Linked DNA regions of Homo sapiens. The protein of the gene in region 1 purifies or fractionates together with the protein of each later gene. This does not show direct contact. Each region holds a gene or a part of one and is shown in the gene's direction. Other genes may lie near its edges. The genes, in order: ALDH1L1, AFG1L, COQ8B, ADCK5, MTRES1, PRELID3B and LYRM1.

The links.
Region 2: the proteins of ALDH1L1 (region 1) and AFG1L purify together in Homo sapiens (co-immunoprecipitation; one large-scale study listed by IntAct). This does not show direct contact.
Region 3: the proteins of ALDH1L1 (region 1) and COQ8B purify together in Homo sapiens (co-immunoprecipitation; one large-scale study listed by IntAct). This does not show direct contact.
Region 4: the proteins of ALDH1L1 (region 1) and ADCK5 purify together in Homo sapiens (co-immunoprecipitation; one large-scale study listed by IntAct). This does not show direct contact.
Region 5: the proteins of ALDH1L1 (region 1) and MTRES1 purify together in Homo sapiens (co-immunoprecipitation; one large-scale study listed by IntAct). This does not show direct contact.
Region 6: the proteins of ALDH1L1 (region 1) and PRELID3B purify together in Homo sapiens (co-immunoprecipitation; one large-scale study listed by IntAct). This does not show direct contact.
Region 7: the proteins of ALDH1L1 (region 1) and LYRM1 purify together in Homo sapiens (co-immunoprecipitation; one large-scale study listed by IntAct). This does not show direct contact.

The regions. Positions count from the first base shown.
Region 1 is NC_000003.12:126,159,799-126,163,608, reverse strand, and holds part of ALDH1L1 (cytosolic 10-formyltetrahydrofolate dehydrogenase), read left to right. Parts: intron 1-2,606; coding exon of another isoform or gene 2,607-2,629; coding exon 2,630-2,756; intron 2,757-3,171; exon of another isoform or gene 3,172-3,324; intron 3,325-3,433; exon of another isoform or gene 3,434-3,526; intron 3,527-3,810. UniProt on the Homo sapiens protein: Cytosolic 10-formyltetrahydrofolate dehydrogenase that catalyzes the NADP(+)-dependent conversion of 10-formyltetrahydrofolate to tetrahydrofolate and carbon dioxide.
Region 2 is NC_000006.12:108,322,455-108,326,264, forward strand, and holds part of AFG1L (AFG1-like ATPase), read left to right. Parts: intron 1-1,370; coding exon 1,371-1,594; intron 1,595-3,810. UniProt on the Homo sapiens protein: Putative mitochondrial ATPase. Plays a role in mitochondrial morphology and mitochondrial protein metabolism.
Region 3 is NC_000019.10:40,703,082-40,706,891, reverse strand, and holds part of COQ8B (atypical kinase COQ8B, mitochondrial), read left to right. Parts: intron 1-1,444; coding exon 1,445-1,567; intron 1,568-1,710; coding exon 1,711-1,796; intron 1,797-3,036; coding exon 3,037-3,177; intron 3,178-3,269; coding exon 3,270-3,351; intron 3,352-3,810.
Region 4 is NC_000008.11:144,372,413-144,376,974, forward strand, and holds the start of ADCK5 (uncharacterized aarF domain-containing protein kinase 5), read left to right. Parts: upstream 1-1,634; 5' UTR 1,635-1,683; coding exon 1,684-1,695; intron 1,696-2,413; exon of another isoform or gene 2,414-2,991; coding exon of another isoform or gene 2,992-3,225; intron 3,226-4,562. UniProt on the Homo sapiens protein: The function of this protein is not yet clear. It is not known if it has protein kinase activity and what type of substrate it would phosphorylate (Ser, Thr or Tyr).
Region 5 is NC_000006.12:107,045,133-107,048,886, forward strand, and holds part of MTRES1 (mitochondrial transcription rescue factor 1), read left to right. Parts: intron 1-3,754. UniProt on the Homo sapiens protein: Mitochondrial RNA-binding protein involved in mitochondrial transcription regulation. Functions as a protective factor to maintain proper mitochondrial RNA level during stress.
Region 6 is NC_000020.11:59,039,946-59,044,381, reverse strand, and holds the start of PRELID3B (PRELI domain containing protein 3B), read left to right. Parts: upstream 1-1,595; 5' UTR 1,596-1,651; coding exon 1,652-1,683; intron 1,684-4,436.
Region 7 is NC_000016.10:20,899,121-20,903,695, forward strand, and holds the start of LYRM1 (LYR motif-containing protein 1), read left to right. Parts: upstream 1-1,650; 5' UTR 1,651-1,769; intron 1,770-1,921; exon of another isoform or gene 1,922-2,342; intron 2,343-3,365; exon of another isoform or gene 3,366-3,597; intron 3,598-4,575. UniProt on the Homo sapiens protein: May promote cell proliferation and inhibition of apoptosis of preadipocytes.

The DNA.
Region 1 (3,810 bases):
ATTAATAAGACAACTTTCATAATATGCTAGTCTATCTACCAAAATTCCCCAAAGCTAACCAATGGTCAAATATTGAATGGTTTCTTCCCAAGGTCACAGGAATGAGACAGGAACTACTATCACCATCTGTATTCAATATTGTAGTGGATATATTGGCAAGTGCTATAAGAAAGTAAATGAAATGAAAGACTTCAGGATTAGAAAGAAAGAATTAAAACCAACATCATAACATGATTTTATACTTAGAAAACCACAAAGAATCTACACAGTATGAAAATTTATATGTGAAGCAATTAAGGTGCTAGTTAATACAACGTCAGTGTACAAAATCAATTGTATTTCTATATGCTAGCAACAAAAAAGACAAACCAATTTTTAAAATGGGTCAAAACTCGAATAAACATTGCTCCAAAGAAGGTATACAAATGGCCAAAAAGCACATGAAAAGATGTTTAACATCATGATTCAATAGGAAAATACAAATCAAAACCACAATGAAATACCACTTCACAACTACTAGGTAGATCAGCTACAATAAAGCTTTAGGTTATGTATCTTCACCACTACAACAAAAAACATTTTTAAGCTATACTAAATGCAAAGATAGACAAACTGACTAAAGTTTCAAAGATAGATGTGTACATGTATGATCCTTTTCAATGAAGAAACGTCTTTTCAGTAACTAGTGCTGGGTTAATTTTATATGCAGATGGAAAAAAAATTCTGGACTTCTACCTTATATTGTATGAAAAAATCAGTTCCAGAGGGATTGCACATCTAATGTAAAAGGCAAAACAATAAAGATCTTGAATGACAAGGAGAACATCTTCATGAAGTTGGAGTAGGCAAAGATTTTTTAAATAGAATACAAGAACCACTAAACATAAAGGAAATGTTTGATAAAATGTACTATATTAAGTTTAAGAACATCTGTTCATCAAAAGACATTATACGAGGATGAAAAAGGCAAGCCACAGAATTAGGGAAGATATTTTCCATACACATATCTGACAAAGAGCTCAAAGTCTAGATGATTAAAAAACAAAACAGAGCAACAATACAAAAAAACTCCTTTTCAATAAGAATAAAACCACCCAATGGAAAAAAACAGACAAAAGATTTGAAGAGATGATTCCCACAAAAGGATATCCAAATAGCCAAGAAACAGGAAAAGGCATTCGACTTCATTGGTCATCAGGGAATTGCAAATTAAACCCCAATGAGACAGCTGTATTTCATGTTAGGAAAAGCGCTAAAATGAAGACACAAGCCAAAGTGGAGAGCACATGGAAGTGGAAACTAATACAACCACTCTGGAAAACTGGCAGCGTCTGTTAAAGCTGGAAATTTTCACACCTATGACCCAGGAATTCCACCCTAAGTACACACCTGACAGAGATGTGTACATGTGTACCATGAAGACCATGTGCAAGTATCTTTGTAGCATCCTATTTGTAATACCTTTAAACTGGTAACTACCCAAATTCCATTAACAATAGAATGAATAAATGAACTAGAGGTCATCCACATATCAAAATACTCTGCAGCAATGAGAATAAACTCAGTACAACTACATGCAACCACAAAGATAATGTTGAGGGAGAAAATCTACAAAACACTGCATGGTTCCATTTATGTAAAATGAATACATATAAAGGGGATATATATATATATCAAGCGAAACCATTCGATGCTGTTAGAAGTCCCATCATTCTTGGTGAATGTAGTGACTAGAAGAGGCTCAAAGAGTTCCTGGAGTTTTTCTCTTTCTGGTGGTGTTGACAGTGGTGTGTTTGGTTTGTGAAATTCATTGAGCTACACATCTATGATTTGTGCACTTTCTGTATGTATGAAGTACACATTACTTTAATAAAATTTTCCAAAATAAAATCTTATTTTCGTAAAAGGACAATTTAAAGAACTGTATTAAGTGAATAATAGTTCAGGTTTTACAGATATGCGTGAGGTGAATGAATGACCAATCTTTGGAGAATGTGCATGATTAGCTAGGCTTCATTCTACACATCTTCCTTAGTGGAATCCCATTCCACTTTCCACCACCTTCATCCTCAGGCGCCCCCACGCAGGCCCCTTTTCTGTTGCAGCTCAGCTGGACAGCCCCTTCGGCGGGGACTCCCCTTGCTCCTTTTGTGACTCCTGGCTCAGAGGAATAAGCCTAATTTGTAGGCTGAAAGCCATTTGAGAGATGTGGCATCTTTCTCATGAACAAGTGTGACTTGACCAAGGCCATAGAACTGGTTAGTTACAGAAATATGCTCAAATACATATCAAACATCTTGACACCCAACATTCCATGCCAGTTTGGAAGGTTTCAAAAAGAAATCCCCTAATTCTACAATCCATTTCCAGCTCACCTGCTGTCGCATTGAATATTCTGACATTAGGGATCCATTGGGTCATGTGTACATGTTTCATCTGGTCTCTCTTACAGTGGCAGTCTCCCCTCAGTGGCCTGCCACCCACAGAGCCACAGAGGGGACTGGGGTAGAGCAGGCCAGGTGCCATGAACTGCCCTGTCTTGAACCAGGGCTGGCTTCTCTGAGACCAGCGATCTCTGTCTAATTGCTGCCTTATTCCTTCTCCAGGTCCTTCCAACCCTCCTGCTACCATGAAGATTGCAGTGATTGGACAGAGCCTGTTTGGCCAGGAAGTTTACTGCCACCTGAGGAAGGAGGGCCACGAAGTGGTGGGTGTGTTCACTGTTCCAGACAAGGATGGAAAGGCCGACCCCCTGGGTGAGTGAGCCAATGGAGCAGGGAAGCTGATGGAGGGCGGCCCGCCCATCCAGGTAGAAGGGAAGCAGTAGGTGGGAGTCTGGGAGCAGAAGTCTGCAGGGCCTGTGCTCTAGCTGGGAGGCAGCCATAAGTGGTCTACCTTGAATCCTGCTCCAGTGCCAACAGGCTGCTGGGCTTTTCTGGAATAAATTGGAGATCCCCTCCCCACCTGATCATGGGGTGGCATTAGGGTCCTGGAGAAGGGCTATAGAGAAGCCCAGCCTGGTCCCAGGTCCCACACAGAGCTTCTCTGACCCAGCACCCATGATTGGGAAGGTCTCCATGTTCTGAACTGGGGGTCCATATTCTGAAAGGTGGGCATGCGCGGCATCACCATTGCTGGGGCTGCCGTCAAAACACATAGTGCTCTACTTACCCATCAGGGGAGAGACCATGATCACAAAGGTGGTTTTCCCAGGGCGAGTCTTCTCCATTGTACTCTGGATGTGCTGATCCCTGCAATTTCCCCAAAGGTGGGAAACTCGACTTCATAATTTGTGGTAATGGGGAACTGCATTTGCACTCTCCCCTGGCATTTTGTAAAAGAAAAGAAAAAAACACAGAGAGTACTAAGCGCACCCTGAGAGTTTCGGATTCAGAATGAGGTGGAAAAGTCAGAATTAGGTGAAATTGTTAACCTGGGACAAGTTCCTGGGAGATACTGGCATCTCTTGTACTAGGAAAAGCACGTTTTGAGAATCATGGGTCTGGGTCACTGCCTTTGAGCTGGGAACCTCAGCAGACAGGATGCAGGGGCCTCAGCTTGGATGAACAGACCCTCTAGGAACACTGACTGGTCCTTCTCAGGCCTGATGGAGACAGACTGTGGGGCAGGGCTTAAGGATAGAGGGCCAGGATTAGGAAAGGGGGCTTGTAGGCCTGGCCAGGCACAGAGGTGTAGTTTGTTAAGGAAAGCCAGTCTCCCTCAGTGGGGAAGCTGCAGCCTGGCCCTAGAATCAACTCCAACACTCAACACCCAATGCCAGCCAGGCTTCAGTCTTGGACCTGACCACAA
Region 2 (3,810 bases), on another chromosome or scaffold:
GTTTCTGCTCATATCCCATTGTTAGAACCTGCTCACATGGCCATACCTGACTGCAAGAGAGGCCAGGAGATGTAATATGTGTCTGGGCAGCCATGCATCCAGCTAAAACTTCTATTTAGAAAGGTGGAACAAATAATGGAAGACAGCCGTCCCTATCTCCAACATTCATGATATATTTAAGGACTTTTCCCCCTCTTTTGGGGAAAACATGGACCTAACATTGTGATTGTTAATTCTTTTTGCTAAAGTAATTTTTATGTTATTGTGACAAAGGAAACATGATGTTCAATGAAATGAATAAAATGCTGGCAGAGTACCTTTGGGAAATCTTGTTCTGAAAAATGTGCCAGGTTGCTGCTGTTTATTGTTGCTTCTAAACAGTAGAGAAGGAGTTAGCTGCTTATTAAACCTGCCCCACATAAGGAATGGAATTATGGTTGGACCTCGCCACAATCATTTCTCTCCCAGGAGAGGCCAAAAATAGGATCAGAACACCACCCTGCTTTGAAGCAGACACTCTTGCTGTGTCTCAATTCCATGTCCAACTCCGTAAAGGTTATGGAAAACAGAAAAAGATCTCAGAAGCAGAGGGCTGAAATCGATGTGGTAATATCTGAATGTTATGTTGTCTTTGAGTAGAGAATTAAGGAACAGTGGAAAACCCTTGGGACTAGTCTTCACGTCTTTGTCTTGGTGCTTAAGAACCAGAATTAGGGTTTACTCAAAGAAAGGCAACTCTCTTGCTTTGGGAAGGAGATGAGGAACCCCAGTGTCTCCTTCAGTGGACTGGAAGCAAAGCAGAAGCTGTAGTAGGAATAGGCCTTCTGGAAGAGAGGTTACAATTATAGTTTATGGGTTTGGGGTTTGTTTCCTTTTGTTAAAATAAAACAATTAGAAATATATTCATTGTTTAATTATTTTTTTTTTGAGACCGAGTGTCACTCTGTCACCCAGGCTGGAGTACAGTGGCACAATCTCTGCTCACTTCATCCCCTGCCTCCCAGGTTCAAGCAATTCGTGCCTCAGCCCCCCAGGTAGCTGGGATTACAAGCATGCACCACCATGCCCAGCTAATTTTTGTGTTTTTAGTAGAGATGTGGTTTCACCATTTGGCCAGGATGATCTTGAACTCCTGACCTCAAGTGATCTGCCTGCCTTGGTCTCCCAAAGTGCTGGAATTACAGGCGTGAGCCACCATGCCTGGCTGAAAATGTATTTTATATTATTTTTATCAAAATGACATTTACAAAAACTGCTCCAATAGATATACTTGTAACTAGTTAAAAGTTTGAATTTGACCCTTAAGAAATGTGTAGAGCACTGTGAAAATGTATTTAAGAAAGTCTAAAATTTTATGTTTTTGTTTATAGCCTATACGGTTCAGACATCCGAGAGCATGACCCCAACTGCCACTTCAGAGACTTATTTGAAAGCTTTGGCCGTTTGCCATGGACCTCTGGACCACTATGATTTTCTGATCAAAGCTCATGAGCTAAAGGATGATGAACATCAAAGAAGAGTCATACAGTGTTTGCAGAAATTACACGAGGACCTTAAAGGATACAATATAGAGGCAGAAGGCCTTTTTTCAAAGGTGAGGCTTGTGTGATATGAAAGATTAAACAGTTAAAAGTGTAAGCATTTTCTAAAATGGATGCAATGCAGTAGGACACAATCATGAAACATCTTGAAAAATTTTCACCAGTTCCTTTACACAAATTCTGTTGGATCCCCATTCCTGGCCTTTTGATGTTCCATAGCTTTCTTTTGCCTTCAGGGGTTTGAATAGCTTCATATTTAGGTATTTAAAAAATGCAGTCCAGTCTAAATAAAAACTTCTATGGAAATTAAAGCTTTCCCTTTCCTCTAGCTCAGGCCTCATCCAGGGATCAGCAGTGGAAAAGGAGGAGTGATGTGTTCTTTCCCTTTTCTTCCTCCTTCTTTCTCTGTTTGCCTGACATCTCTAGGGTCAGAATGAGAAGAATGAAAGATTAGAGTGAAACAGCAGCCTTAAGTGACCAGTTAGTTACTGGGGCCTTTGTATGGTAGATGCTGACGTGCTAGCTCTTTGTTGAGGGTCTTATTGGTGGGTTCTTCAAGACTCCCATGGGGACCTCCACACTTCTCCAGTCTTTGACTAACCTCTTATGACTCTGGGGAAGCAACTCACAACCCTGCATTCTGCCGACACCGCCTTGCTCTTGCCCTTAGCCTTCTTGGGTGGGGTCCTTTCAGGACTTTTTTTTTTTTTTTTTGAGACAGAGTCTCGCTCTGTCACTTGGGCTGGAGTGCAGTGGCACGATATCTTGGCTCCTGGCAACCTTTGCCTCCTGGATTCAAGCGATCGTCCTGCCTCAGCCTCCCAAGTAACTGGGTAACAAGCGTGGACCACCACACTCAGCTAATTTTTGTATTTTTAGTAGAGACGGGGTTTCACCATGTTGGCCAGGCTGGTCTTGAACTCCTGACCTCAAGTGATCCACCTGTCTCGGCCACCCAAAGTGCTGGGATTACAGGTGTGAGCCACTGTGCCTGGCCTGGGACATTTCTTATTGGGTCATCTTTTATGGTGTCCGTGCAGGCCACAGGAAACATAACATCTCCTTTCGCCACCCCTTGCTGCATGGGCAGCCTCAGTCAGCCTCCTGTCCTCAGACTTCTGCAAGCAAGAAGCAGGCACTGGTTTCTGTCTTTGTCATGCATACCCCTTTCTCCTGGGGACTTATATCAAGTTCTCCCATGAACTCTTCCACACTCTGCTCTGGCAGCTGCTTGTGCATTTCCTTACCTAGGCAAGCATCCAGCTGGGGAGAGCGATGTCCATCTCAATTTATATTCAATCCTCATCTCTTTGGATGCTTCTCTTGGGAACCCCTCGTATTTGTTACGAGATATCTGAAGGGCACACCATGGCACTCTACCCAGCTAACTTTCTACCTTGATCACTTTCTTCAGTTTCACTTTGGTTTTAGGGCTGTTTTGCCTTTTTTTTTTTTTTAAACCTAATTCCTGCATGGATGTGACTAGTGTGTATTTATTTATTTATTTATAGATGGATTTTTGCTCTATTGCCCAGGCTAGAGGGCAGTGGTGTGATCTTGGCTCACTGCAACCTCCACCTCCCAGGTTCAAGCAGTCCTCCTGCTTCAGCCTCCTGAGTAGCTGGGATTACAGGCACACACCACCACACCTAGCTAATTTTTGTGCTTTTAGTAGAGATGGGGTTTCACCATGTTTGTCAGGCTGGTCTCGAACTCCTGACCTCAGGTGATCCGCCCACCTCGGCCTCCCAAAGTGCTGGGATTACAGGCATAAGCCACTGCACCTGACCTATTTATTTATTTGAGACAGAGTGTTACTCTGTCTCCCGGGCTGAAGTGCAGTAGTGTGATATCTTGGCTCACTGTAGCCTCCGCCTCCCAGGTTCAAACGATTCTCCTGCCTCCCAAATAGCTGGGATTACAGGCACCTGCCACCATGCCTGGCTAATTTTTGTATTTTTAGTAGAGATGGGGTTTTGCCATACTGGCCGGGCTTGTCTTGAACTCCTGATCTCAAATGATCCCCCTGCTTCGGCCTCCCAAAGTGCTGGGATTACAGACATGAGCCACTGTGCCTGGCCTATTTTTTTTTGGAGATACTGTCTCATTCTGTCACCCAGGTGGGGTGCAGTAGCACAATCATAGCTCACTAGTAGCCTTGAAGTCCTGGGCCCAAGTGATTCTCCTCCCGCAGCCCCCTGAGTAGGCTAGGGCTACAGGCATGCATCACCATGCTCCACTAATTTTTTAATTTTTTTGTAGAGACAGG
Region 3 (3,810 bases), on another chromosome or scaffold:
AAATGGTGAATTATAACAGTATGTGAATTATTTCTCAATAAAACTGTTAGAATGAGCCTCCAAAGAGCTTATTTATGTGGATTATAGTTATCAATGTCTACCATATTAGAAATTAAAACTGAGAAATTTTTAGGCCAGGTGCGGTGGCTTACGCCTGTAATCCCAACACTTTGGGAAGCTGGGGCGGGAGGATCCCTTGAGGTCAGGAATTTGAGACCAGTCTGAGTGACATAGCGAGGCCCCATTTTTACAGAAAGTAAAAATATTAGCCAAGCATGGTGGTGCATACCTGTAGTCCCAGCTACTCAGGAGGTTAAGGCAGGAGGATCACTTGGGCCCAGGAGGTTGCAGTGAGCCATGATTGTGCCGCTGCACTCCAGCCTGGGTGATAGAGTGAGACACTGTCTCAAAAACACAACAAAAATACAGAGATATTTTTAAAACACAAGAGTACACACGTACACATTCCATCAGCTGTCAGTCTGATGGTGTCCTCACATGTCCTGGAGCCTCTGGAGAACTCCAGTGAATGTTCTTAGACGCATGAGAGCAGAAAGGGGAAAATAACATCTTAATGTTACGATAAAAATAGTTTGATCTCTCAGACCCCTCTGAATGGTCTCAGGGACCCTCAGGGGTCCCTGGCCCACATTTCGAGAATCGTTGCCCTTCTCATGTCCCCACCTGGTCACTCCCCTCACCAAGGGTGACCTCTGTCTTGGCTCCTGGACCCTGGATTTGTTTGGCCTTGTTTTGCTCTTTATATCAGTGTAACTGGGTGATGATTTCATGCACCCGGCTGCTTTCACTCAGCATTACATTTTTGAGACCCACCTGGGCTGTTGTGTGTAGTGATAGCTCATCTATTCAATACTGTAGTAGTTACTCTTTGACTCTCCTGCAATTTGTTTTAACTTATGTTTATTTTTCTTTCTTTCTTTTCTTTTTTTTTTTTTTTTCCCGAGACAGGGTATTGCTTGGTTGCCCAGGCTGGAGTGCAATGGTGCGATCACAGTTCATTGCAGCCTCAACCTCCAGGGCTCAAGCAATCCTCCTGCCTCAGCCTCCTGAGTAGCTGGGACTACAGGCACATGCCACCATACACCCAGCTAATTAGAGACAGGGTCTTGCTTTGTTATCCAGGCTGGTCTGGAACTCCTTGACTCAAGCCATCCTCCTGCATTGACCTCCCAGTGTTGGGATTATAGGCGCGAGCCAACAAGCCTGGCCTCCGTATTTCGTTTTAGCCATTCCTGTTGGTGTGCAGATGATATATATTTTTTTTAATAGAGAAAGGATGTCACTGTTGCCCAGACTGGTCTCAGACTCCTGTGTTCATCCCGCCTGGGTCTCCCAAAGTGCTGGGATTACAGGCGTGGGCCGCCGGGCCTGGCCGCAGTGATGATATTTGTGGTTATAATTCTAATGGTTGTTCTCTCCCCAGAGGGTGGTTCTGGGCTGGACTCCAGCCCCTTCCTGTCGGAGGCCAATGCCGAGCGGATTGTGCAGACCTTATGTACAGTTCGAGGGGCCGCCCTCAAGGTTGGCCAGATGCTCAGCATCCAGGGTACAGCATGACCCTCGACTCCTGACCCCTGACCTCCCTTCTACCCCAGCCCTACCCACCAACAGGCCCCAACTTCAGATACTCACACGGGGTCCCTCCTCACCTCTTCGCTTACTTCCCCCCTGGTTCCACTGTCTCCCAAGACAACAGCTTCATCAGCCCTCAGCTGCAGCACATCTTTGAGCGGGTCCGCCAGAGCGCCGACTTCATGCCCCGCTGGCAGATGCTGGTGAGTGCCCAGTGGGGGAGGGCGGTGAGGGAGGCAGGCTCCATCTCCTCTGACCTGCCTGACCTTCCTGGCTTCACTGCCCCACTCCCTGCCTCTGAGCCTCACTTTCCCCATCTGTAAAATGGGAATCACCAGAGTACACACCTCCTAGCATTGCTGTGGTGATTAAAACAGGGAACAGCAGCCTGACCTCTCTGTGCTTCAGTTCCCTTCCCTGGGAAATGGCGATAGTGACAGCCACACCCACATCATAGGGTCACATAAATCAGTTTACACTGAGCACTGAGAACGGCCCCTGATTCACTGTGAGCAACATGCAGGTGTTAGCTGTGATTATTACTGTTTTTTTAATTAAAGGAGATCGTGTCTGTAATAGGTTGGCACGGCGCCTGGCACCAAGTAAGTGCCCAGGACATGAGCTGTTCTAATAACTGGGTAAGGCATGGAATCCAGGATTCCGCCACCCACCTGCTCTCCCATCCCTGTTCTGCTTATTCGCCATGCGGCCCCAGGCAGGTACTGCCTCTCTCTGGGCCACTCTGAATAGGACCTGGCCCACAGGAAGCCCATTGTAAATTTTAGCTCTTCTTGATCACAGTAACTGTGAGTTAATAATAACATATAAGAGCATAATAAAGGATGGTTGGCCACGTGTAATGGCTCATGCCTGTAATCCCAGCACTTTGGGAGGCTGCGGTGGGAGGATCATTTGAGCTCAGGACTTCCAGACCACCCTGGGCAACATAGTGAGACCTTGTCTCTACTAAACATAATAACAGTAATAATTAGCTGGGCACAGTGGCACATATCTGTAGTCCCAGCTATTCAGGAGGCAGGAGGATGGCTTGAGCTCGGGAGGTTGATGCTGCAGTGAGCCGTGAGAGTGCCACTACACTCCAGCCTGGGCTACAGAACAAGACCCTGTCTCAAAAAAAAAAAAAAAAAAAGGATTGTTATGAGTCTTAACTATAAATAATAGCAATCCCCACAACAGCCCAGGGAGTCCAGGTTCAGGGGACACAGGCTAGGCTGAGCCTCACAGTCTGCCAGTGCCTGGCTAGTCACTTGCACAAGGGAGCTCTCTCTGAGCCTCAGTTTCCTCATCTGCAAAGGGGGTGGCAGCCAAGAGCTTAGCCCAGGGCCCTGCATGTGGTGAGTGCTGGGGTTATCAACACGTAAAGCACTCAGCCTGGGGAATGAACTCTGCCACAATGATGATGGCTGTGACCACTCCCCGCAGAGAGTTCTTGAAGAGGAGCTCGGCAGGGACTGGCAGGCCAAGGTGGCCTCCTTGGAGGAGGTGCCCTTTGCCGCTGCCTCAATTGGGCAGGTGCACCAGGGCCTGCTGAGGGACGGGACGGAGGTGGCCGTGAAGATCCAGGTGAGAGGGGAGGCTGGGCAGGGTAGGGGCGGGCACCCTGCTAGCCCAGAGAAGTGACTCCCACCTTCTCTCCCTCCCTTCTCCCTTTACAGTACCCCGGCATAGCCCAGAGCATTCAGAGCGATGTCCAGAACCTGCTGGCGGTACTCAAGATGAGCGCGGCCCTGCCCGCGGGTGAGGCGCCCACCCACTCCTCTGCTGACCTCCCAAAGGGGCTATGCCCAGAGAGAGAAAGCAGGAGGGGGAGCCCAGAGGAGAGCACGGGCAGGGTGTGCTGGCGTTGTGAGCGGGAGTGTCAGAGACAGAAAGGACACCAAGGCGGGGAGAGCCCAGGGAGCATGAGCAGGTGTGGGAAAAGCCTTATGGATTTTAACAGAGCCTTAGAGAGACGGGAGCCCAGGGCCAAGATACAGCAGCAGACTCTCAGAGGGTGTGCATGCAGGGAGCGGGATTGTAGGTGCGGCAGAGCAGAAAAGGACAGTCCTGGGGATGGCACGTGAGGAGGCGCCTAGAGAAAGGAGGGTGGGTTGTGTTTGTGTAAGAGACGGAGAGGGAGAGGGAAAGCCAGGCCCAGAAGTGAGATTCAGATGCAGTGAGCAACGTGAGAGTCAGTATGAAAAGGAGACAGAATAG
Region 4 (4,562 bases), on another chromosome or scaffold:
TTACTGTGTCAGCCCACATGGCTCTTCTGGACCTGTTCCATTACAGAGGAAAGGTTGCCGAGGGAGGCAGATGTTAGCAAATGAGAACACTCCAGAAAGCCCGGCTCCGGGAGGGGCCCCAGGTCCATCTGTGAAGTTCTAGTCTGGGCTTTGGGGATGAGGGACTGAAGACTGGAGGCCAATCCCTGTCCTGCTAGCAAAGTGATGCAGGGCACACAGAATCATTGAGCCCAGCAAACTTGACCTTGGGGATGACAGAGACTTCACAGGAGACACGCCATAACAGAAGGGGCACTAAAGGGCTGGAGGCACCGGCTTTCCCTAGGCAGGGACCACCCCATTGAAGAGATGCCTTTGGGTTCAGTCCCAGTGGGAGGAGCAAGAGGACTGTAAGAAGATGAGGACGAGGAGCCATGTGGGAGGAGGAGGGGCCACTTGTGGGAGGAGGAGGGGCCACTTGTGGGCGGAGGAGGGGTCACTGGTGGGAGGAGGAGGGGCCACTGGTGGGAGGAGGAGGGGCCACTGGTGGGAGGAGGAGGGGCCACTTGTGGGCGGAGGAGGGGCCACTGGTGGGAGGAGGAGGGGCCACTGGTGGGAGGAGGAGGGGCCATTGGTGGGAGGAGGAGGGGCCACTTCTGAGAGTTGTGAAAAGGCCTTGAGGCCTGAAAACCTCCCACTTTCAGCTACTGTGGCACCCTTAGGCCAAGCTGACTCAGGAGCCCTCGTGGATTCCACAAGGATGGTGTTTTGTTTCATGCTCACAGTGGGGTCTAGGAGGGCTTGCAGGCAGTAAGTGCCAGGACCCGTGTTGGCGCCCGAGGATCCCTGGCATGTTCGGGGACGGTGAGGTCAGTCCAGCAGCGGTGAGGTCAGTCTAGTAGCAGTGAGGTCAGTCTAGTAGCGGTGAGGTCAGTCTAGTAGCGGTGAGGTCGTCAGTCCAGCAGTAGCCTTGCTGGCTGCATGGCATGCCCGGGCCTGGGCCCCTACCCAGCCAGGGCTGTCACAGAGTGAGTAGCAGCAGCCTAGGGCACTGCAGGAGGCTGTGACGTCACTGACGTTCCCATAAGAAGCTAAGTGACAGGGACCAAGGGTGGCTGCAAAGTGAACCCCAGAATCTGAAGCCCTGGCCCTGGGAAGGTCTCCCCATGGGCACGGGAGCTGCTCCAGGACCCCTTTGGCCACTCTCCTGGTTGTCTTCCAGTTCCCAGTCAGGGGCGTCATCTTGGCCCTCACACAGGCAGGTGGTGAGTTGGAGTCCTGAGGTTAAAGAGATTCACGCTAATCACACTATAGCACGGAGTGTTAAAGAGAGGCGGATACCGGGCCGTGAGGACCTCAGGAAGCCCTCAGCCCTCCCCGGATTATCCACGTGCTTCTCACAGCGGTCCTTCCGGCAGGTGCCTGCCCGGGGAATGCGCAGTGCGCCGAGGGCGGGACTGGAACCCTCCGCTCTCAGGAGGCGCGGTCCGGGCGCCAAAAGGTAAGCCTCTGGGGGCCGCCAGGGGACGCTGCCCCGCCGCGGAGGCCGGCACGACTCGGGGCGTGGCCTCCAGCCTCGCCCACCGCCCACGGGGCGGGGCTCTGGCTCCGGCGCGTGCGCACTACGCGCCCTCCCGCAGGGCCTGCTGGGCTGCGAGACGCTAAGCGGCGCCGGGCGGGAGAAGAGCGGAGCAGTGGTCGGAGATGTGGCGACCGGTGAGGACTCTCCCGGCCCGGGGCGCCCGAGATCCTGCACACCAGCCCCAGAGACCCGAGACCCGCAAGTCCCCAGACCCCGCCCTAGAGACCCTCGGGGCTTTTTCCCTCTTTTTTTTTGAGGCAGGGTCTCGCTCTGTCGCCCTGGAGCGCAGTGGTGCGATCTCCGCTCACCGCAGCTTCCGCCTCCCGGACTCAGGCGATCCTCCCGCCTCGGCCCCGCAAGTAGCTGACACCGCAGGCGTGACCGCTCCCGGCCGACTCTGTTTAGCAGAGTCGGGGTCTCGCCGTGTTGCTCAGGCTGGTCTCGAATTCCTGGGCTCTAGCGATCCGCCCGCCTCAGCCTCCCCGAGAGCTGGGATTTCAGGCGGGAGCCGCGCCCGCAGCCCTGACGCCGCCTGCACCGGGAGCCGCAGGGGCCCCTCCGCCCAGCCCGGAGGCGGGTGCCCGGCGCCCCGGAGAGCGCGATCTCCAGAGGGCAGGGGCCCCGCGGGGAAGCCTCAGGCGCCGTTCCCCTCGCGAGGCGGCCTCCCGGAATCACGGACGCCTCCCTGCCCAGCCTGCTGCCCCGGACCTCCTTCGCTCGCCTCCCCGCCGGGCCTGCCCTGCCCTGAGGCGGCGGGCGGGCGGGGGCTGCAGGCCGGGCTCTGCTCTGAGCGCCCCTGCGTCGTCTCAGGGGCGCGCCCCCCATGGCTCCGAGGCCCCCTCTCTCAGGCTCTCGGCGTCTCCCCGCTCCCACGTCGCCGCCGGGTCCCGTTGCTCTGTCCCTGCGGTTAGGACTGCGGGGGGGCGGGGCAGAGGCCTTGACACGCATCTTACCCACCCCCTTCCAGAAGAGATGAAGGGGCTCCCAGCGCCGTTCCTTTTTTTCTTGGAATGTCAGCAGAGCTTGTGTTTGGCGATAAGCTAGCCTTGCCCGTCTGGCTATAAATAGCACAGATGGACGGCCCACTCGTGCCCCAGCCCAGCTGTGTGACCCCAGGGTGCTTCATGGGCCGGGGAGGTGGCCTTCAGTGCAGCTCCTTCCAGGTGACAAAGTCTTCCCACGTGCAGGCCACTCAGTCCCTCCCCAGCCCCAGCGAGTGGACAGGTCGGTTTAGCCTCTGGTTAGGAGCTGCTCATGGCCAGTGAGCAGGGCTGGGTCCAGGCGGCGTTTGAGGACTGGCTGGGGCTGACAGGGTCACACACCCTGGGAGAAGGACAGTGTCTGTGGTCGCCAGACCCACTTACCCTGCCCAGACTCCCAATCTGTCTCTTCCTAACTTTGGGGACAATTATGTGCCTCAGTTTCCCCTCATGTTGAGGTGCACAGTGCTGTTGGGTTCCCCAGGCTCTGGTCATCCGTTCATGGTTTTTAGTTTCTGGCATCATTCTGAGACTCGGCAGTTGCTTCTCACTGCTGCGGCCGGGCCTGTCTGTGGGAGCTGCATCCTCCTCATCTGCAGGCGCTGGAAAACCAGACACGATCGGACATGCATGTGGTTCTGCGGCCAAAGCACGCCCTTTGGTTGTGAACTTCATGATACCTGTGTGAGTGTTACCACTCAGAATACTTGCCGCTTTCAAGGTAGTCAGCTGTGGTCTAGAGTCACTCTGGAACGGGAGGTGTTTCCGTTTGTGCAGACAGACTGCACACACTCACCATAAGAAAGCATGAGAGGTTCTGACAGGGGGCACCCGTTTCATCTTGTCCAAACTGGAAGGCTTTGGAAGTCAGGGGAGCTGCAGGGATAAGTGTCACCAGGGCCGTCTCAGGTGTGTTGGGGGAAGGCCCTGGGGACCCACCGTCTAAAAGACGGCTTATCTTCTGGCAGTTTAGAGGTCGTGTTCTGGGTGCGGTTGGGGCTGTGTGTCACGTGAGAATTGCCCTGGATTGGGCTCTGGGAAGTCCTTCTGGGAGATGCAGCTGCAGGCTCGCCCCCCAACCCATAACCTCTCTGGGCCTTGGGGACCTCTCCTGTGTGATGGGAATTTCAGAGAGGATAGTCTGGGTGTGCTGGGCGCTCCACATTTGGAGGAGACAGGCTCTTGCTCAGCCTCATGGGCCCTGGCAGGCACTGTGGGTTATCAGTGCCTGTTGCTTGGCAGGGCCATGTGGGGTTCAATTGAGTCCTGTGCTTCACAGCTGTTGGTCTCATTCGGCAGGCATTCATTGAGTGCCTGCTTGTTCAGAGATGGTTGAGAGGTGGCCCTGCTCACAGTCTAGTGGGAGGACAGATTCCGTAAGTTGACAGTCACGCTGGTGTGTGATGAGGACAGTGGCAGGATAGGACCACGGTGAACAAGGTGGAGCGGGACGTGAGCATGAGCAAGGCTGCTGGTGGACCAGGGTAGGGTGATGGTGGCCCGGGGTCTACTGGAGGGATCTCTGTCCTGGATAAGAATGGGAGTGAGAGACGCAGCTGGAGCCCCTTCTGCAATGCTGGTTCCTGAGGAAAGAGCAGAAAACTGTTGTTGGAGACAGCAGTCAGCCAGCCATGACTTTCCTGGCCTCACCTGTTTGGTGGAGCCTGTGGAAACAGCTTGCGTTGCTGGTCATGGATGAGGTGGGCAGTGGCTGGGATAGCCACCTGGAGGTAGCTCCCTTGCAGCCACTTACGAGCTGCTGTTCAGAGTCTCTCCACAGTCCGTGGGCACGACTGCCTGATCTCGGGGCCTCTAGCCATGCATGCACTGGCACCAGAGGTGGCTAGGGTCAGGAGGTGCAGGCTGGGTAGGCAGCAGGTGGATGGCCCGCCTACGAGTCGCTGCCCGGCTGCCTTGGGTTTTCCTTGTGAATCAGCACTTGCTGCATGTGACCTCGCCAAGCAGGGGTTTCTGTCAACCCGCCCTCTAGGGATAAGAGGTCATGGACTTTTCCCTTTGGC
Region 5 (3,754 bases), on another chromosome or scaffold:
CATAATCATGCCAATGCACTCCAGTTTGGGTGACAGAGTGAGACCCTGTCTCAAAAAAAAAAATTCTGGCTGGGCGCAGTGACTCACACCTGTAATCCCAGCACTTTGGGAGGCCGAGTCAGGTGGATCACGAGGTCAGGAGATCGAGACCATCCTGGCTAGCACAGTGAAACCCCATCTCTACTAAAAATACAAAAAAAAATTAGCCGGGTGTGGTGGTGGGCGCCTGTAGTCCCAGCTACTTGGGAGGCTGAGGCAGGAGAATGGCATGAACCTGGGAGGCGGAGCTTGCAGTGAGCCGAGATCGTGCCACTGCACTCCAGCCTGGGCGACAGAGCGAGACTTCGTCTCAAAAAAAAAAAAAAAATTCTGTTAGAAAATATTTTTTTGTAAAAGTAAGTTACGTATATATATACATCTGGAATTAAAATACTGCTGTTACTAGCATTTATCTTTAATTGAAGCATTATGGGTTATGTTAATTTCATAGTTTTTATTTTCTGAATTTTTTTACCATGAGTATGTATCACTTTCATAATGGAAAAAACAATACTGATAATAAAAGTTAACAAAACACAATAAAAAGTTATGACAGAGACCCTTAAAAAGTGTGGAAGACACAAGACACGAGGTATTGGAAGACATAATCTAACTCAGTGTTCAGGGAACAAAGGTTCCAGAGAAGTTAGACATACTTTGGAGATTGTTTTCATTTCATCTTTCATATTTCAAAATACCCCTGGGGTTGGAGGATCCGAACTACATCCGGTTGCCCTAGGACATGGGAAATTGAGGCTGTCGGCTGTCAGCCGTGCATTTGGGTGAGCACTGAGGCTTCCTGCAGTCCTTGCTAACTGGGATCATGCAGGTTCTTGTAGCTCTGTGGGCAGAAGGAGGGAAAACTCCCCCAAGCTGTCTCAGCCCCCAAGTCCCAGGGCCCTGGTGATGCCCCTGACTTGAACCGGCAGGCTGGGACTGTGGCTGGCTGTCAGCAGCTATTGCTCAGTGAGCTACATGCAGTCATAAGCCCTTCTCATCTCTGAATAGCTTTTTCCTGCTGTAGCCTGCCCTCCTTCTAAGCTGCAGTATTCCAAAAACAAGATGTATTCTTGGAGTAAAGAATGATTACTCCCTGAACACCCTGTCTCTGTGCTGGGGCCTCATTTACAAACCCCACTAGACTATTTTTCCTCACACCCCTCCCACCCGCCCCCGTTTTGTGATGTTGTTAACTACAGCCTAATTGCTGCTGCTTCATTCTGCCTTGGGTGTTCTGTTGTCTCAGCTGCCTTCCATGTTTCTTGTGAGGGTCAGCAAAGGAAGGGGGCATTATTAACGCTCAGCTGTCTTGTTACTAGGAGGCCTGGTAGCCATAGAAACTGCAGCTAACTAGAGATTTGAAATGTAGATATTTGGAACAGCTCCTAATCCCAGCCAGTTTTGCTTTGTGTCTGCTGAGGGACAGGGGCCGTGGAGGGGAATAAAGAATGCCTCGCCTTCCCTGGTCTGCTCTGTGGAGCCTGTGCCTGGCTGCTGACCCCGAAGGGTCAGGTGCTTGTCTGATGCTGCAGCTCTAACCCTGGCTGTCTGCGATTCAGCAAAGCTTTTCTTTGAGCTGAAAACCAGGTGAAGCCCAGGGTGTGGTAGGTGTTGGGTAACTGTTGATTAAACAGTGGGTGTGTGGTGTCCAAGTATGGGGATTGAATCCTTCCTAAACTCATCTCTTCCTGGGATCAGTTGGGTAAAGGAGGAGCACCCCTTCTCTGTGCTACAAGGAAGCTCCAAAGGGATTCATTCTTGTGTGTGTGTGTGTGTGTGTGTGTGTGTGTGTGTGTGTGTGTGTGTATTTTTAGTAGAGACGGGGTTTCACTGTGTTAGCCAGGATGGTCTCGATCTCCTGACCTTGTGATCCACCTGCCTCGGCCTCCCAAAGTGCTGGGATTACAGGCGTGAGCCACCACACCCCGCCAAAGGGATTCATTCTTTAGCCACACACTAGCCTTCTCTATCCAGAGGCAGACATCATGCACAGTATCTCTATGAAAGGATATACACAGAGTATCCTTTTCTTTGTATATTTTTTTTTTCTTTTTCTTTATTTTATTTTGGAGACAGTGTCTTGCTCGGTTACCCAGGCTGGAGTGCGGTGGTGCAGCCACAGCTCATTGCAACCTTGACCTTCTGGGCTCAAGTGATCTTCCCACCTCAGCCTCCCGAGTAGCTGGTATGACAGGCACACCACCACGTCTGGTTAATTTTTTATTTTTTATAGAGACAGGGTCTCACTGTGTGGTCCAGGCTGGTCTTAAACTCCTGACCTCAAGTGATCTACCCACCTTGGCCTCCCAAAATTCTGAGATTGCAGGCATGAGACACCACACCTGGCCTATACACCTTTTCTTTGTCTACCCTTTTGTATCTTCTAAATTTTGTATCATATGCATATATTACTTATTAAAAATGAATTGTAGGCCGGGCACAGTGGCTCACACCTGTAATCCCAGCACTTTGGGAGGTCAAGGCAGGTGGAACACTTGAGGCCAGGAGTTTGAGACCAGCCTGGCCAACATGGTGAAACCCCATCTCTACTAAAAATACAGAAAGTTACCCGGGCATGGTGGCAGGCTCCTGTAATTCCAGCTATTCAGGAGGCTGAGGCAGGAGAATCGTTTGAATCCAGGAGGTGGAGCTTGCAGTGAGCCAAGATCGCGCCATTGCACTCCAGCCTGGGCAGCAGAGCGAGACTCCATCTCAAAAAAAGAAAACAAACAAAAAAAGAATTTTAGCTGAGCAAGTTGGTGTGTGTCTGTAGTCGCAGCCACTTGGGAGGCTGAGGAGGGAGTGTCGTTGAGCCCAGGAGTTTGAGGCTACAGTACACTATGATTATGCCTATGAATAGCCACTGCATTCCAGCCTGAGCAACATGTGAGACCTCATCTCTTTAAAAATAGTAATTTGAATGAAATAAGGTTATACCAAAAAGGTAAAGCAGAGTTCCCAAGCCTTGTATTTCTTTTTTTTGAGACAGCCTTGCTCTTGTTGCCCAGGCTGGAGTGCAATGGCACGATCTCGGCTCACTGCAACCTCTGCCTCCCAGGTTCAAGCGATTCTCTTGCTTCAGCCTCCAGAGTACCTGGGATTACAGGCACCTACCATCACGTTCTGATAATTTTTGTATTTTTAGTAGAGACGGGGTTTCGCCATGTTGGCCAGGCTGGTCTTGAACTCCTGACCTCGTGATCCACCCTCAGCCTCCCAAAGTGCTGGGATTACAGGTGTGAGCCACCACGCCTGGCCTGTATTTCTAGACGGATTTTTTAAAATGTCCACATAGGCTGAAGTAGTCATTTTAAAAAATTGAACCCAGGGTTGGGCGCGGTGGCTCACACTTGTAATCCCAGCACTTTGGGAGGCCAAGGCAGGTGGATCATGAGGTCAAGAGATCAAGACCATTCTGGCCAACATGATGAAACCCTGTCTCTACTAAAAATACAAAAATTAGCTGGGTGTGGTGGCACATCCCTGTAGTCCCAGCTACTTGGGAGGCTGAGGCAGGAGAATCACTTGAAACTGGGAGGTGGAGGTTGCAGTGAGCCGAGATCACACCACTGCACTCCAGCCTGGTGACACGGTGAGACTCCATGTCAAAAAAAAAAAAAAAAGAAAAAAAAAATTGAACCAGCAGAACTACAGAAGGGTGGAACCCCCCCACCCCTGCCCAGGTACCTGTGTTGTCCTATCCCTCAAACCCAAG
Region 6 (4,436 bases), on another chromosome or scaffold:
AGCATTACCTCCCCAAGAAATCACTCTTAAGTACTGTAGGTTTAAAAAAAGAAAATCTCAGGTACCACAAATTGCACTTAGCAACTACCCAACCATATTATTTCCTTCCTGTCTAATGTAATTTTTGTTTTCCTGTATAAAGGACTTATGTTATTTTGAAAAATTATCCTCCCTCCTAAATTAACCTGGCTTTTTGTCTTTAACAATCAAACAAGCTAAGAACAAGAATGAGGTGGTCCTTCTAACAAGCTTCTAAGTAACTAGATGTAAAGATTTTCCTCCATAACCTTCATTGAAAATGGCAAATTGTTCTGTTAGGAGGTAGACGGCTGTGGAGAGTGCAGGAGAGCAGGGTGGGAAGCCATATTCTGAAAGCTAAGCCAGGCAGTCTGTTCCCTGGACAAGGCTCATCTCTGAATGAAACCACATGCCACCTCCTCCTGCCCCAGCAATTCTTAGTCATTCTTTCATCCATTGATGCAACAAATAATTGTCATTTAGGAAGGGGGAAATCACTGAACAAGTCTGGCAAGAGCCTCGCCCTCAGGGGCTTACAGTCTAGCGGAAGTTACAACAAATAAACTAGATGACTCCATTAATTCATTCATCCCACAAATAGCTATTGATTTTTTTCATTTTTCAATAAGTAGTCATTGAGCCTTGACTATATGGGAGACACTGAGGATGATTTTTGAGCAAGACCGGCAAGATTCTTGCCTTCAAGAACTCAGTTCGATTGTGAATTTTCACAAATAAATTAACAAGATGATGTCAGAGGGGTAAGTGCTATAAAAAATGCAACAGGATATTGTGACGGAGCAGAGCAACAAGGTGAGAAACGGTGACGAGGGAAGTCTCTCTGGGAGAGACATCTCAGCTCAGATCCATCCTATGCACCTAGGGCAAGGTGTGCCCGGCCAGGAAGCTTTTCTACCCGACCCCTGGCACCGTGCTTCCGGACCGCATCCCTCGTAGGGGTATTATTCATGGGCAGGTCTGATGTTAGCTTCTCCGCGTCACGCCTTATTTATCCCCTCCGAGGGCTGCAAGCTCCTGGCGGGCAGGTGGGACTGGCCCAGCTGATCGGCTGGGTGGCTGGTGGATTTGGGAAAACAGCCCGGGCTGACCCAGGAGGTGGCTGGAACTCTCTATAGGGCACCAGGAAATTTTGCACAAGTGACCACCACAACGAACATCTATGTCAGCAGGCTGACCGCATGCGTCCACACGCCTCGAAATGCCAGGCGAGGATGTGCTGGGCCAGAAGGACAAGGAGGGCCAAGCGGGCGCGCAGGCACCTCCTGGACCTGACCCAACTCTGCCCAGAGGTCAAGGCTCGCTACAAGCCCGCCGCGCCTGCGCAGCACAGCGCCCGCGCCGGCCCCTCCAGCTGCCGTCGGCGGCACTGCGCCGGCGCGATGCGCCCGGCGCTAAGAGGCGGGGTTTCCTTGCGCCGCGCGCAAGGCTGGGGCAAAACCCGGGCCGGGATAGGGCGTGGGGCCGCGCGTCTGGACGTCCCTCGCGTCGGGCCCGACAGCGCCTGCGCACTGCGCCGCCGGCTGGGGTGCTGGGGGCGGGGCAGGGGCAGGTGTAGCCTCTGTGCCTCGTTGTCCCCTGGCGCTACCCGGACATCTCTCAGGGTGCCGGCACCATGAAGATCTGGACTTCGGAGCACGTCTTTGAGTAAGTTTGGGGCGCGGGTCGGCTCCGTGGAGGGCAGGCACGCCGGCCCTGGAGTAGAGGCGAGGCAGAGGCGGCCCGCAGGAGGCTTCTAGGCGTCGGGCCTAGCGAGGGGAGCGAACTCTGAAGCCTGCGGGCCCCGGCGACACGGAGGGCAGACCAAGGTCACGACCCCGAGGCGCCCTAGCCGAGGGGACGGCTCCGACCTCCAGACCCAGGCGGCCTTGCGACCGGCAGGGCTACGGGGTCACTTCCGGGCTGTCCCCCACCATGAGGTAGCCTCGGGCCGGCGGCCTCCTGAGGTCCTGGGGGCGTCGCGGAGCACGAAGCCCTTGACAGCACTCAGGGTTGCCCCATCCCGCCCTGTGAAACCACTTTGGGACGTGGACCCGAGGATCCCAAGAGGGAGGTGTTGGTTTTCTCCAGAGTGTACTTTCCCTGGCCGCCGTTTGGGTGGAGTTTCTACCTTCGAATGTGAATTTCGGGTGAACTCTGACCACCAGGATGTGAAGCCTTTTCACAACTCGTTCATCTACGCAGCAGAGCCTTGGATTTGGAATTCAAGGTCTAGCTCTGGCTGTAACAAGCGTGTGACCCTGGGTTACCCATTTTCATCTGAGAGATGGAAAAGGACGATCGTCAGGGCCTACCCGTGTTAGCTCTTTGAGGCCACGTTCAGGAACATCTTTTTGGATAATGTGAACTGTTTACTAACGAAACTAAGCCTTGAACCAGTTGGATGTGGAGAATTATATTCTCTTCTAGGTCCCTGATTCCATTTACAAAAGAGCCACAAATTTAAGCAGCGAAATCCTTTTTTTTCCCGAGTTACCTGCTCTGTTCCGCTGATCTTAATGTCGTTGCCACACTGTTTTAATTAGTATAGCCTTGTAAATAAATATGCTACAAAGCCATTTATGTTTTTAAAACTGTCTCTGAAGGCAAATTTTTTTTAAATTTCTTTTTTGAGGCAGAGTCTCGCTCTGTTGCCCAGGCTGGAGAGTAGTGGCGTGTTCTTGGCTCACTGCAACCTCCGTCTCCCGTGTTCAAACGATTCTCCTGCCTTGGCCTCCCAAGTAGCTGGGATTACAGGCGCCCACCACCGCGCCCGGCTAATTTTTGTATTTTTAGTAGAGACGGAGTTTCACCATGTTGGTCAGGTTGGTCTCAAAGTGATTCGCCCTGGTCAGGTCGCACCTGACCTCAGGTGATTCGCCCGCCTTGGCCTCCCAAAGTGCCGGGATTACAGGTGTGGGCCACTGTGCCCGGCCTCTGAAGGCAACTTTTAAAACGTTGTCCGCATTTGTACTCAGTGGGACACATCCTAGGGCCTGCTGTATCCTGCAAAGTATAGAATACTGGAATCAGAAGGAAGCTTTCTTTTCCCCCTACTGTTTAGTCTTTTTGGGAGGAAAAAGACCCGAAATTTGTGGTCATTTAGATGTTCATTAACCTGGTCGCATTCATCACTAGTCCATTTCAGCTCCGAGGATGTTTAATTTCAGTCCTCTTCCAGGTTTGCATGCTTCAGTCCTCTTCTGGGTTTGCATGCTTCAGAGGTTCTCGGCACTCAGTCTCCCTAGAACTGTCTTCTCCCATATCTTCCCTAACTCTTCTTCCTGGCTCATCCCCTCCTTCCCTCTACACTCTTTCTGCCTTTGTCTTCAGCGCTTCCCTGTCTTTTCCCATTCAGTGTAAATGTTCAGTGAGATTCTGTGTTGGCCTTCCTATATTGGATTTTACCTGTGATCTTAATTTCTTTTTTGTTTCTCTTTTCGTCACAGACTTTTTTTTTGTCCTGGGAGAAGCAGCCCTGATCCGTGCTTTCTCCCCACATAATCTGAGCTGTTTGGTCAAAGTCCCAAATGATAGGTATACATTTATGGCACCCAGATCTGTACCTTGAGCTCCAGCCTCTCTTGAGCTCCGCTTTTCATTTTCAGGTGCCTGTTAGGCATTGCTACCCTCGTGTCCCACAGGCCCTTAAAACTCAGCCTGTCTGAAATTGAAGTCATCATCTCCCCTGACAAATCTGAGCGTTGTTTCTGATCTTTAGGATGTCACTCTCTAACAATGTCTAAGTCATCATTCTACATCTTATCTGTCTTTGATTTTCCAACACTTTTCTTCTGAGGCCTATAGTTGGCATCCAGGTGAAGTCATTCATTGATTCCTTCAACTTATAGAGATGCCCAGTATGTGTCAGCCACTGTTCTTTGGATTGATTACATTTTCATAAGTAAATCAAGACCTCGATGCTGCGCCAGTGGAGTTAATAATGTCCTCACCTCGTTTCAAAGGTGAAGAAGTTGGACCGGTCAGTGAGCCATAGCCAGGTCCTCCTGATTCTACTTTGGCGTGGTCTTTGAATGTCTTCCATTGTGAGATCTTTTCCACGTAATTATGTTAATACAGCTCAGATTAATTGCTGGAAGATTAATCATAATAAGTATTGTTTGTAATGTTTGAGCTGGTTATGGTTCATAAAGCAATCTTGAGCCAAGCTAAGTCAACATCAGTGGTTTCAAGTTGGTTCAGAAAGGAGAGATGGACTAAATTACAAATAATGCATAACCACCCTGAAGTCATGCGATTATTAATTTTTTAGAGAGGGTTGGGGGAAGAGGTAAGGGCATGGAAGCCAGCTAACCATGGCATATGACTGGATGGAGACCTGGGGAGGGTTCATCTGATTTTCATTTTAGAGAGTTGCCTTGGTAAGAATCAGTGCTTGGCCTGTATGCTTCGATTTGTCG
Region 7 (4,575 bases), on another chromosome or scaffold:
AAAAACATAAAAGAGCTATTGTCCAATTGTAGAAACAAAAAAGTAATATGGGGTTTTCTGTTCTCTGAAGTGCATCATGAAAAGTGGGTGGAGAGAAACACAGAAATCCAGAATTAGCCTAGCAAATCATTTTGGGAAGAGCTGACAACATGTAAATTCCTCACACATAAAGTATTTCGAGCAAGAGACCTTGATTCCTGGGCTATGATGCCATTCAGGATTCCTTGCAAAGGCTCTGGAATTCCAGTATTCATAAAAGAAAATGCTCATTATAATCGGAGCGTAAGAGGTACTCCCAACGTGACAGCCTGTATGAAGTATTACAAAGCTTACAGTTAAGATCTGGGATAGAGGCTGAACACCAAATTCAAAAGAGGTAACCAAGGCACTAAGTGCCATAAAGGAGGAAAGGGGAAGAAAAAAAAATCCACTATTGCCACTCAGCCACAGAGAATTAAAGTGGAAACCAGGGGTGTGCATGGGGGAGGATGAGGGGTGAGAAGTGCGGGGGGTGTGGTGGAGGAACAAACAATACATTTGTCACCCCGTCCCACTTCCTATAGAGGATACAGGCAAAGCCTCCAGCCTCATTACCTCGGACACAGATGGTTATCGTTTATAGCAAAGGTGCACAAAAAGGCCTTCAGGTCTGAGCCCCTTAATTCCAGGGCTGTTAATGATTAAAGAGAACGATGGGGGTGGGGAGGGAAATGAGGGCGGAGGGAGCTGGGAGATTCACCCACCACCTCCCCCTAGGGCTCCTACCTCACAGCGCTCACCCAGGACAGAGGACCAGAGTCTGCACCCCCTCCAGGGCAGCTCCAACCCCATATCCCCAGGCCCTGGGTTGAGGGGTGCTGGCGGTGGGGAGGCAGGGACAGTAGGTAAGTTTTCTGAGCCCTGCGGCTGACACGCCACAGGCTCCCCTCACAGCCTCTTCTTTCAGAGGTACCACTCCAGACAACGCGCTGACTTCCACTCCTCCCTTTCCACCCCCCTTTCTCGAAGGTACCCAACCCCCGCCCCTTCATCTCTCAATGCCCCCCCGCCTTTTCCTCAACTCCCCCCCTCCCCAAAACTCACAGCTGCTCCAGAGGTTCCTCCAGTCAAACCCTTTCTGGAAACGACGGCGGCCCGGCGGGTCCAAACCACCTACCATCCCCGCTCGCGTTTCCAGGCTCCCTACCCCCGCCGCCGCCGCCTCTTCTTCCACCACTGCCACCGCCTCCTCTTCATCTGCGGCCCACCGGCGGCGGCCGCCCCGAAGCCCCGCCCCCTCCATCGCCTCCTGCATCATCACTTCCGGTAACCCCGCCGGCCGCCAGCTCCAGGAGGGAGAATGGGAGAGGGGCAAGGAGGGAACGAGTGGAAGATTGCGTCACGACGCACATAAAGACGTACGAAGCCGTCGCCAAGTAAGGGCAAAGACCTAGCAACCCGGAGGGAGCTGGGCTGGACCATTTTTTTTTCTTGTTTTACGGGAATGGAGCGGGGAGGATAATGAAAGCGTAAAGGAAAAATAGGGGGAGGAGGAGCTCAGCTTATTGTTGGATGCGGCGGGAGATGGGTAGAGTCAGTCAGTCGAGACTCCCCCAGACCTGGAACTGGTGCTCCCACAGAGGTGGGCCCGGTGGTTTGGTCCGGCCTGGCCTACTGGACCAGCCTGTGCTCGGTCGGCCACGGCTCTGCTGGGCTCCTGGCGCCGCCTCCTCCCAGCCCGCCGCGGGCTGCGCGCTTCTGTGGGTGGGGGAAGGCAGGACTGACGCAGAGTGAGTGTAGGGGATGGAGGCGCCGACTCCAGGCGCGGGAGACTGGCGGGGAAGGGGTTGGCTCCCCACGGGCAGGGATGGTTTGGAGGTTGGGCTGCGGCGTTGCCGGGAGACGGGCCTGTGTGACCCCAGCTTCGCGGGGGCGGCTCGGTGTCATCGCCACCGGCCTCGGGGACCTGCCTCACGGAAGTGGCTCGCGCGTCCAAGAGGGGAGGCCTGGTGTGGGGACGCTCAGGTGCCGGCGTGGGGCCCCCTCGGAGGCTGTGAATCTTTTGGACCCCCGAATGTAAATGGGAGATGGTAGGGGCCGGTCCGGGGGCGAGAGGTGTCTGGCTGGGGAACGTTGACCCACACCAGGTCCCGTACAGGAACGGAGACTCCCTAGGACCGTGAGAGCCAGCTTCGTAATTCTCTTGCTCTTCAAACCTGAGAGTAGGGTGTTGCTCCGTTACCTTCCATTCGTGTGCAGGAGAGAGTTAAGTAAATCAATAAAGAAGGTATCAGCAAGTGAGAAATGCCCCCCAAAGACCGGATGAGGTGACAGAAGATGGGGGGAGGGCCCCTCGAAATCGGGTAAGGTCGTTCAAAGGAGGCCACGGTTTTGCGGGGATCCGAGACAATGGGTTTTCTGGGTGGAGAGAAGAGCCAATGAGAAGGACTTTTAGGTTGGAAACAGCCAGAAGGCCATGTGGCTGAAGCAAACAGAGCCAGGGCCGGAGTGCCCTGTGATGTAGTTGGGGAAGTGGCATGACTGTAGCAGCGCCTTTTAGCCCAAGGCAGGGGTTTGGCTAATGTGTACCTTAAGGGTTTTAAGAAGGGAAGTGACCTGACCTGATTTACATTTTTAAAAATCCGCTCTGCCTGCTGGATAGAGAAGGGTGGAAGTAGTTAGACCTGTTAGGAGACTGTTGCACTGTAAGACAAAGGAGAGGTGAAGATAGTGTTGAAAGGGCCGGCCGGGCGCGGTGGCTCACGCCTATAAACCCAGTACTTTGGGAGGCCTAGGCGGGCGGATCACGAGGTCAGGAGATCGAGATCATCCTGGCCAACATGGTGAAACCCCATCTCTACTAAAAATACAAAAATCAGCTGGGCGTAGTGGCACGCGCCTGTAATCTCTGCTACTCAGGAGAATCGCTTGAACCCGGGAGGTGGAGGTTGCAGTGAGCCAAGATCGCGCCACTTCACTCCAGCCTGGGCAACGGAGTGAGACTCCGTCTTAAGAAAAAAGAAAAGGCCCTCAGTCACAGTGGAAATGGAGAGAATTCCATTCAGCATATATTTGGGAGGTAGTGCTTGCAGGACTTGCTGGGGAATTGGATGTGAAGTGTGTAGGAGAGGGAGGAACCAAGGTTAACTCCCTACGGGAAAACAGTTTAGAAAGGAATATCGAAAGTTCTCTTTTGAACATATTAAGTTTGATAAGTCTATTAACAAGTCAAATGAAGTTGTCAAGAAGTTAGATATACAAGTCGGGGAAAAATCATAGTTGGAGATAATAAATAAGGAAGGCAGGGAGGAGCTCCCAGATCACCTAAGAAGAGCGTGTAAATAAAAGAGGAAGACCCCTAAATCCCTTGGGTTCTTACCATTTAGAGAGTACCCAGAGAAGGAGAAGCCAGCAAAGGAGACGACACAGACAAGACCTCAGAGATCAAAGGAAGAGGCCCCTTAATATCCTGGAATAATGGGACCCATCCCCGTAATCAGTGAATCTCATCCACCCGCTTGCCAGCTTCTACCCGCAGCAAGTAGAAGCTAAGTCCTGGCTCAAATCTCTTCCCTCCCTCCCTCTCCCAGCTGTCAGTGCTTTTGGACTTGTGCTCAGGTAATTTGTGTCCGTTATAGAAAACCTGACTTTTTGGATAAATTGTCTGTTTATATGGCTGTCTCCCCCAGGTACTGTTTCTTATTTGTGTCTTCCTGGCTCCTGGTACAGAGCCTTGTCCATATGGTGGTTGTAGCTGGGCAGGAACACTGTGTTCATAAGGTATCAGCCATACAATCCAACAGCTTCTCACAAAAAGGGGCTTTTGTCCCTGCCACTGCTGCCAAGCCCACCACAATTACGATCAGTTCCACAATATAGTGTAAAGGGTATCAGAAGATGAATAAGAAGGCCTGGGTTTCAATCCTGGATCTGCCACTGACCAGCAGAGTGGCCATGGATAAAGCTCTTCTCTCTGAGCTGAAGGGTTGGCCTAGATTTGAAGTTGCATACTGACAAGACAGATATTGCCTGCAAACATATTGTTCAGCCCACACAGTGATTTAAATTCTTTTTTAAATTTACTTGCCAACATTTAAAAATTGGACATCAAAATCCAGACTTTGGGCTTCATTTGAAAAATCCGACAATCTGACAACACCAGCCTGAAGTTCCTAGAGGTTCCTACACAGCAACTGTCAGCCAGAGCTGAAGAGCTGTCTCCCGTCTATGTGGCTCATGCTCAGGGTTTGCCAAAAAGGCCTCTCCTCTCCTGCTACCTGGCTGACCCCTGTGGGCATTTGATTTGCAATTCTTGGTCTAGGGCTGTGCTATCCCTGTGTAGCCACTGACCACATGTGACTATTTAAATAAAAATTCAGTTCCTCCAACACAGTATGTTTCAAGTGCCAGTAGCTACCTGTGACAGGTGTGTGTCCTATTGGACAGAGCAGATAGAACCTTTCCTTCACAGAAAGTTATCTTGGTCAGCATTGGACTGGAGGAACTCGAGGGTACTATGTAGGCTAGTCATTCTCCGCATGTGAAACTCAAGGGACTTAGCCTACTGAGGAGCTCTGGTGCCTCTGCAGATGGGAA